3 separate regions of the Homo sapiens genome follow, and regions 1 and 2 are each reported to be linked to region 3. The links are microRNA targets in miRTarBase. Many come from high-throughput screens and were not tested one by one. Region 3 holds a microRNA gene; each other region holds the end of a gene's coding sequence.
Evidence for each region. Region 3 holds the annotated microRNA hsa-miR-8061 (CUUAGAUUAGAGGAUAUUGUU, at 948-968, shown strand). A microRNA usually pairs through its seed, bases 2 to 8, with sites in the 3' UTR of a target mRNA and lowers its output. Matches are read on the target gene's strand: a 7mer-m8 pairs with bases 2 to 8, a 7mer-A1 pairs with bases 2 to 7 and ends in A, and an 8mer does both.

Region 1 (3,265 bases), not on the chromosome of region 3:
GAAACAACTGTAATTGTTAACCAGTACAGTTTTGACACAGGACTTAATAAGATCTATCCACTATTTATCCTGCAGATGTCCAATATTCTTTAAGTTTTGTATTCATATGTGAACATTTGGGAAATACACTCCAAGGTCATAAGTATTTTCGATGAAAACTTTTGGTGTCTTTGTTATACCACGTTACATTTTTCTTTTTTGATTTGTGTTTTTCTTTTTTTCTAGGAAACTGACTGGACATTCTTTCCACATGGGCTATAGCATGGCGATTTTGAATGGCATCGTAGCTGCTCTTACTGTAGCATGGTGCCTCATGTAAACCCACACTGGAGCGATATTGTTGGCAAAACTTAATCATGATTGTTTTGTAATAACAAGAAGGAGCATCACTGTCTACTCAGAAGACTGAGAAACCTGCTGTTCATTATGTAGTTCAGATATTTATCACAATCATCCTCATTATGGAAGACCTTTTAAAGCATTGTTTTAGAATGTCTGAGTATTAAGATACAGATTAATTGGGAATATCTGAGTATTAAGTACTTTCTTCAGAGTATAAGATGTTTACCTCATCTTTTTACTTTTGTGTGTGTAGTTCTTTCAAGTTGTAGGAAACATTTTAATGGAATTTAAACTCAAAAACTTGAATACAGGACAATGCTTGCCTTTTCATGTATGTACTACATTTTTTGCTAAGAAATACTGATATTTCTGTTTAGTTGAGCTAGAAATACTTCTTATTTATACATTTAGGAAAGCAAATAATGCCTACTACTCCGACTTTTATAGAAGCTACTTTTAAATCAGAATATTTAATTTTTGATATTCATATAATTAATAGAAGTTGCATTTATATTTTTTATGGGGCATAGTTCCTTATGTGTTTTTTTAATGTATTTTCATACTACATACTGAATTTGTATGTTTTTAAAATTGTTACATCTAGACAACTGTAAACATTATTTTTTTAGCTAGTGCAAACCTAGTACCTGCCATTTTTACTAATTTTTGTCTTTAAAAAAAGCAAAAAAGCACATTGACCTAAGTTGAAAATTAAGTAAGTTTATTTTTAACAAAAAATGCCTGAAAAAAGCTAAATTATTTAAGTCATTAAGATATTGAGAAAAAATTTGAAATTTTTACTATTTCTGTTTCCACAATTCCAAATATTTATCTTGGTGTATATATTGTTACTTTAACAGAACTTGCATTATTTTGTTTTTAATAAATATAAACATGAAATTTTTGTATGTGAGAATGATTGAACTAGTTTGTTCTTAATCTCAAAAATTTAGTTACCAAAGTAGAAAAGGTATTTTGATACTAGATATTAAAAACTACATATAGTTAATATAATTTTATAATTTTTGTAATTAAATGTGCTCCTGTAATTGTGATATTTTGTTTTCTAAGTAATTAAGCCTTAATTTTTCCCCTATGTTACTAAAGACTTTTAATGTTTAGAAAGTTACCTCAGTTTTAGAAAGATGGACTACTTACAAAGCTGTTTTCCCTGGCCATAGGAAAACTTACAATAAGAAACCATTAAGTAGTCAAACTGCTTATTCAGGCTAAGTGGGAAATGAATTTGTGCAGTGTGTTCCCTTAATTATCTACTGAATGTTGTTACCGACTAAACAAGGTTTCTAAAAGTCTCGCATTTCTTTTACTATTCAAAACTCTTTGGTTGGAAATGACTAATACTGCTCCAATTTAAATTATCTGAAATGTGTGTGTGTGTGTGTGTATCTAAATATCAATCCCATGGCTTAAGTATTCCTACCAGAGTGGTGGTTGCCATCAGTCTATTTTCACTCCCTGCCTTCCTTCCTGCACGCTTAAACTCTTCACCCTTTGACTCCAAAGAGCCCTTTCATTGCAAAGATGTACACAAGTAACAGAATCAATTTATCTTCTCTCCACCACTCTGTATTCCCACGCACCACCAATGTGAGTAACTCCCTCCAGATTGTTTGTGTCTAATGACTAGGAAAGTTATTAACAGTAGACCCTAGATAGAGATATGTACACCCTAGACAGTCATGTGCCATATAACAACGTTTTGGTCACAACGAACTGTACTTATGATAGTGAATCCCCCCGTAAGATTATACTGCTGCATTTTTTACTTTATTTTTTCTCTGTTTAGATACACAAATATTTACCATTGTGTTACAGTTGCCTGCAATATTCAGTACAGTAACATGCAGTACAGGTTTATAGTCTAGGAGCAATAAGCTATACCATATAGCCTAGGTGTGTAGTAGGCTATACCATCTAGGTTTGTGTAAGTATACTCTGATGTTCACACAATGATGAAATTGCCTAATGACGCTTTTCTCAGAATATATCCTTGTCATTAAGCCAAACATGACTATATATACCTACAAGATATATATTAATATAGATAAATATAGAGAGAGATGTATCCGTAAGATATTTTTGTGGAATCCTAATTCTTCTGGACTGTTACTCCCCTTTTTTGGGAAATGACCCTCCTCTCTCCAGTCTGACACAGGGTCCAAATATAAATCATCTATATGCAGAATGATTAGGCAAGGATAGTCACCTAACTCTGGCTGAGCTAATCCTAATCTCATTTTGCCTGGCTACAATGAGTAGAATAGAGAAATGACTTCAGTGAAGTATGTCTCTTCCCAGGATTTTTCAGCTTGAAATTAAGATGTGACGAAGCTGGGAAAATGCAAGCCCAGGAAATGCTGGCAGCTGTAGTTCAGCCAGGCTCAGTGGGAAAGAATAAGGCTGATAACGGATATTGCTAATGGCGTTACCCTGGTCCCTGAAGCCCAGTGGCAATCCTGCCATTCTTGATACGTGAGTCAATAAATTTCTGTCTTTTGGCCTTTGCAGTTTACATTGGCTTTTGTCATTTGCAACAAAACAAGTCAAAATGAGCTTATCTAGCAGCTGGAATCCATCTCTATTGTGAAACTGACTCAGATGATCTCATCTCCTTATGTGTAGCTTACAGCATTCTATTTAGTTACTTGTGAAAGATAAACGGGGTGTAAGTATTCCTGTGGCTAGTGATTAGTCTCAGGGACTTGAAAAGACATTTTAGAATAAATTAAACTATTATTAATCTTGCTGTTTCATCAAGAAATTATGTCCCCAAATTCAGTTCCACCTTAAGTGTTATCAGAAAGAATATTACTGTAGTTATCAAGATATGATTCTTTAGTTAATACAACGTAATGAGTTTGAACTACAACTGTTACTTAATATCTTAGCATTTCCCGGTTTC
Region 2 (3,265 bases), not on the chromosome of region 3:
ATAAATGTGTGTTTGTATAAGGGACCACCTGGAGGGTGTGGCGGACCTGCCTGAAATGTTAGATCAGGGATCTGATGGAAAGGGAACTTGGATGGAATTCGGAAGAAGCCATCTTTTATGAAGAATAACAGAGCCTTTTTCCCCTCTCTGCCCTCAAACAGATACTGACAAGTTAAAAAACATAATGCAGGTGGCAGAGCCCAGAGTCAGAGATGTCATCAACAGCATGGAGCATGCTATTGTTTCCCGGAGCCCTCGCATCCGCTACAACCCTGGCCTGGATGCCAAACTCCTCTACATCCCTCTGGCTAAGTTGCCCACCCCTGTGACAGATTTCATCCTAAGCCGGTACCTTCCAAGGCCAGCGGACAGTGTCTAAACTGGGGAGGATCAATGGGTCAGTGGAGCCTAGAAGTGGGGGAGGAAGGAAGGACCGTGGGGTCACAAAAGGTGGTATCGGTTATCCTGGGGGCATTGGCTGCAAAGGAAGCTTGGCTCAGCTGACACCCACTGCTGTCGAATTTACCAGTAACTTCTAACAGAAGGTGAATGCCTCTTCCCACCCTCTGGGACCCCACAGAAACCTGAGGTGGTCTTTGCAGGTTCAGCGATCTGCAGCAATAGCTCCAAGGACGTCTGTCACCCAATCAGGATACAGCTTTTTCTGGTCCTGGAAAAGTCATGGAGAAGAAAACCAGCTCCTGTGGAATCATGAGCCCCTTTCAGTTATCACTGCCACTGAGAAATACTGTGGGATAATCTTGCCTCCAGGAGAATCTAACCACCTTCCTAATGGGTCCCTCAATATGCATAACTTCATTCACATAACCCATTACTGAAGTATGCGGTAGGGCAGATAGGGAGTGCAAGATTAAATCAGACAAAAGTTTAAAATATTTTCTTTCTTTTTAGATTCTTCTATCTATAGGTTATTGGGATCCACATGAAATAACATTCATTTATTTAATCACCATTAATTTTTCAAATATTTATTGAGTGCCTACTACCTACCGGGCACTTTGTAGGTGCTGGGGGAATATAAAGATGATTAAATCATGGTCTTGGTTTTTTATTGTTTATTTTGTGTTTTGCTTTGCTTTGTTTTAGCACAATATCTAGTAGCTGAGTTAGGACAAACAGCGATAGAAGGAATAGAAATCAGAATACAAATTTTTAGAGCTATGAAGGACCCTGGAGGTCTTCATCCAATACTTCACAAGCTTGGCTGTACCTTGTATCACCCAGTCAATTAAAAAATACAGACTCCTGTGCCAATATTAGAAAATCTGATTCAGTAGGACTGAGATAAGGTCCAGAAATATGTGTTTATAACAAGGACCTATATGATTCTGATGCACCCGAGCAACTTGGAGCCACCAATAATTCCATAGAATAAGTAACTTAACACTCAGAGGGGGAAGTGACCTACCCAAGCCCCCAGTTTAGTAACTAAGACAAGGATAGAAATGAGGCATTCAGACTCCCAGACCAGGATTATTTTTCAGTTATAGGAAAATCAATTTCTCAAATTAGTAACACTGTCAAATAAGTCATTGAACTAATTTTTTTTAAAAAAAGACTTAAACTCCTGGGTCATATGAAGTTCTGTGGAAGAGACTTTTTTTTTTATCTTGATAAATGGTCATGTAATAAAGGTCAAATGTGATTTTTTTAACTAAAATATCTTTAATTTGGGTCTCTTCAACATCTGAAAATAATAAAATATAATCCAGGTACATCTGCAAAGACTCCAAATAAGGTAACACTCACGGGTTCCAGGGGTTAGCTTATAGATATATCTTTAGGGAGCTACTGTGCAACTCACTACAGTTTGTTGTTTGCAGCACTTCTATTCCTGGCACCAAATTCTAAATCAGATAGAATGCATTCAACAAGTAACAGAAAAACCAACTCACACTGGCTTAGACAATGAAGAGTGAGGGCAGGGCCCAGTGGCTGAATGATGGCATTGAGGCTGTAGGCTCTTTCTACTTCTTTGCTCCGCTGCCCACAGTTTTATCTTTACCCTTTGTTGCTGTGGTGTGACTGCCAGGCAAAGGGAACTCTACATTTCCTCATTCACAACTTAGAGAAGAAGAAAGAGCCTGCCTTTCCACAGCATTCAACATTGAAGAAGTTTCTTTCTTAGAGCCCTCATCATGTGTCTCCTTGAATCTCATTGGCCCAAATTGGTTTAGGCTTGTCCACCCCTGGCAAAGAGGTAAATTGCCATGAATTGCTTAGATTAATCACGGGACAGATGGGATGTTGGGAAATCAGTCACAATGTCTACTACCTTGGAAAATGCAAAACTCAGACATTATGCTGTTGAGAGGGTTGAACAAAGGTCAAAAATAAATTTTCTGAAGACACAAAAATTTACTAAGGGGAAACTGGCTAGGTAATATTTTGAGATAATAATTTACACTTTTTCATTCCTCCCTGTTTTTTTTTATTTCCCCTTCTTCCATTCAAATAGATAGCCAATTTGGTACTTCTTTACCTAGGGTGAGATGTTTGATGGGATAAAACACATAAATTTCCTGCACTTTTTCCAGCTTTAGTTTCCCCCAACCCTGATATATTTAGAAAAATTATAGAGTTGTGGGAAAGAAGTAAAACAGAATGTGACTTATGGGTGTACCAAATGACTCAGAGAAAAAGAGACTTTCCCCTATGACAAAGAGATTCACTCTGATGAGATAAGAAGTTGATGTTTGGGGTTCCCAGGACAGGAGGGACCAGGGCCCACTTTCTAGAGCACCTTGGGGGCACACCATGGGGAGGTGACAAGACTCAAGAGAGTCACAGCTACATTGTATGTTTAGGCAGATTCGACTTCAGATGACCTCACAGGAGACTCATGTGTCCCACCATGGCAGGAAGGTAGTAGAAATTTGCTAGATATAAAGGGCATGTAGACTGGAACAGCAGACACTAAAGTGGTAACCTTTAGAAGATAGAAGACTTAATTTTTTGGTCTGAGGGCCATCTCTCCACCTCATCATTAATAGCTGAGGTATTTTTTGAACTTATGAGCTGAGATTCATATATGCTCCAGAGTTACATTTTGGTTGATTTCATATTAGAACCATCACCTTTCTTATATAACTTTTGTATTTTCCTGGAGTTTTGAATTGCCTTTTCTTGTTCATTTATTCAGCTTCTTAATCATTTTTATCTCCATTTTTAAAGTAGGGGAGTAATGTGATCTGATCTATATTTTTAAAAGATCACTGGGGGGCTCTGTGGAGACTGAAATGAA
Region 3 (3,265 bases):
TGGAGGAGATGCCATGACTTCCACCCGCAAACCTCTGATCTGTCTTGATGAAATTGAAAGAGGGAGAGGGGAGACTGTAGCCTGGAAGGAATCCCACCTCACAACTTGGTCCTGATTGAATAGAAGACCCCAGAGGTTCACAGAGATCCCAAGGTGGGGAGGATCTGCCCAGGGTTCAGGAGGCGAATCTCCCTCAGGAAGCTCCGTGACCCCCTCCTTAGTGTCGCTCCTGTGCCTCAGTGGGATTTGGAGAGGATGCCTTAGATTAGAGGGTATTGTTCAGTGGGATTTGGAGAGGATGCCTTAGATTAGAGAGTATTGTTCAGTGGGATTTGGAAAAGATGCCTTAGATTAGAGGGTATTGTTCAGTGGGATTTGGAGAGGATGCCTTAGATTAGAGGGTATTGTTCAGTGGGATTTGGAGAGGATGCCTTAGATTAGAGGATATTGTTCAGTGGGATTTGGAGAGGATGCCTTAGATTAGAAGGTATTGTTCAGTGGGATTTGGAGAGGATGCCTTAGATTAGAGGGTATTGTTCAGTGGGATTTGGAGAGGATGCCTTAGATTAGAGGATATTGTTCAGTGGGATTTGGAGAGGATGCCTTAGATTAGAGGGTATTGTTCAGTGGGATTTGGAGAGGATGCCTTAGATTAGAGGATATTGTTCAGTGGGATTTGGAGAGGATGCCTTAGATTAGAGGGTATTGTTCAGTGGGATTTGGAGAGGATGCCTTAGATTAGAGGGTATTGTTCAGTGGGATTTGGAGAGGATGCCTTAGATTAGAGGATATTGTTCAGTGGGATTTGGAGAGGATGCCTTAGATTAGAGGATATTGTTCAGTGGGATTTGGAGAGGATGCCTTAGATTAGAGGGTATTGTTCAGTGGGATTTGGAGAGGATGCCTTAGATTAGAGGATATTGTTCAGTGGGATTTGGAGAGGATGCCTTAGATTAGAGGATATTGTTCAGTGGGATTTGGAGAGGACGCCTTAGATTAGAGGTATTGTTCAGTGGGATTAGGAGAGGACACCTTAGATTAGAGGGTATTGTTCAGTGGGATTTGGAGAGGATGCCTTAGATTAGAGGGTATTGTGTCTTTCAGCAACAAAACCGTACAAAAAACACCTGGGCATTTCACATCAGTGGATAAAGCATATCTTGTGCCAAATCAGGACCAAACTGCGGTGAAATTTAGGGTTCACACTACAGTTAATCACTTTTGAGGAAAGCATTCCAGGTTGGTGCCTATCTCTGTGATAAACATCTCCCTTCCTGGCTACAGGTAATGGATTAAAGTAACACTGGCCGAACAGACACTATCTTCACTTGATGATTATACTGAAAAATAGCCATAAAATTGTTCCCTCCAAATCCAATTCCCCTTTTGACTTTAGACAATTCTCTAAAGAAGATATACAAATGGCCAACAAACATATAAAAAACATGTATATATGCGTATATATACATATATATACACACACACACACACACACACACACACACACACACCATGGAATACTTCAGTCATAAAAAGGAACAAAATAATGGCATTCGCAGCAACCTGGAGGCAGTTGGAGACCACTATTCTAAGTGAAATAACTCAGGAATGGAAAACCATCATCATATGTTCTCATAAGTGGGAGCTAAGCTATGAGGATGTAAAGGCATAAGAAGGATATAATGGACTCTGGGGACCCAGGGGGAGCAATGGGAGGGGGTGAGGGATAAAAGACTACGCATTGGGTACAGTGTACACTGCTCGGGTGATGGGTGTTCCAAAATCTCAAAAATCACCACTAAAGAACTTATGCATGCAACCAAACACCACCTGTTCCCCCAAAACTACTGAAACTTAAAAATAAATAAATAGATAAAAATAAATTCACCACATTCAAAATGACAACCGCTGAAGCCCCAGTGGGCGCATGTTACAGGGTGCTCTTTTAGTTTCGGCCTTCCATAGGCAACTTGTGTGTATCAGCTCCATTAGACCCCTGCCTTCCTGCAAGGACAGACGGCTCTCTGTATCCCAGGGTTCTCGCCTTGGTGTACCGGAAGAACCGGATCACATGAGGGCTTGGAGAATGAGTGCAAGGTTTGATTGAGTGGAAACAGCTCTCAGCAGAAGGGCGATGGTTTTCTCCTGGAGTCGGGCCCCTGGCGGCCCGGGATCCTCTCTGACTGTCCCAGCCAAGCTCCATGTCGTTCTGCCAGTCGGTGGCCTGTGGTGTGCTGGTGCCCGTCCTTGCGTTCCTCTCGACATCCAGCCATCTGTGTGTTCCTGCACTGACGTGCTCCTCTCAGCCGCCAGTGTCTTCTTCTTCCGCTGATCTGCGGACGTCCAGCTGCTTGTGTGTCTGCCTGCTCAGGTCTCGGAGTTGTTTTTTTTGTTTGTTTGTTTGTTTTTTAATTATACTTTAAGTTTTAGGGTACATGTGCACAATGTGCAGGTTAGTTACATATGTATACATGTGCCATGTTGGTGTGCTGCACCCATTATCTCGTCATTTAACGTTAGGTATATCTCCTAAAGCTATCCCTCCCCACCCGCCACCCCACAACAGGCCCCGGTGTGTGATGTTCCCCTTCCTGTGTCCATGTGTTCTCATTGTTCAATTCCCACCTATGAGTGAGAACATGCGGTGTTTGGTTTTTCGTCCTTGCAATAGTTTGCTGAGAATGATGGTTTCCAATTTCATCCATGTCCCTACAAAGGACATGAACTCATCATTTTTTATGGCTGCATAGTATTCCATGGTGTATATGTGCCACATTTTCTTAATCCAGTCTATCATCGTTGGACATTTGGCTTGGTTCCAAGTGTTTGCTATTGTGAATAGTGCCACAATATAGTTCAACCATTGTGGAAGTCAATGTGGTGATTCCTCAGGGATCTAGAACTAGAAATACCATATATTAATCACCTCAGTTAGTTATTATTTCTGTGTGCATGTGTGTGTGCAGTGAAAATACTTAGGATCTACTCTCAGCTAATTTTAAGTGTACAATACAGTATTGTTACCTATAGCTTTCATTCCATACATTAGCTTTCCAGAATTATTCATTTCGGAGAATTGAAACTTTGTATCCTTTGACCAACATCTTATTTTTCCCATTTCCAGCCCCTGCTAACCACCATTCTACTCTCAGCTTCTATGAATTTCACTATTTAGATTCCACAATTATGTGAGATTATAAGATATTTATCTATTAAGAGTTGGATTCATTTCACTTAGCATAATGTCATTTGGGTCCAATCCTGC

Region 1: the mRNA of ARL6IP6 is a reported target of hsa-miR-8061. Seed matches in the 3' UTR shown: 7mer-A1 at 1,748-1,754.
Region 2: the mRNA of SDR9C7 is a reported target of hsa-miR-8061. Seed matches in the 3' UTR shown: 7mer-m8 at 775-781.

The regions. Positions count from the first base shown.
Region 1 is chr2:152,759,522-152,762,786 of GRCh38, forward strand. ARL6IP6 (ARF like GTPase 6 interacting protein 6) reads left to right here. Exons shown (of 4, transcript NM_152522.7): 4 at 226-2,875. The coding sequence ends at 319. Among named protein-coding and RNA genes, the nearest start is that of ARL6IP6, 43 kb to the left of the region's middle.
Region 2 is chr12:56,920,947-56,924,211 of GRCh38, reverse strand. SDR9C7 (short chain dehydrogenase/reductase family 9C member 7) reads left to right here. Exons shown (of 4, transcript NM_148897.3): 4 at 162-1,079. The coding sequence ends at 379. Among named protein-coding and RNA genes, the nearest start is that of SDR9C7, 12 kb to the left of the region's middle.
Region 3 is chr19:54,644,372-54,647,636 of GRCh38, forward strand. It overlaps MIR8061 (microRNA 8061), which reads left to right and starts at 938; the gene lies at 938-1,012.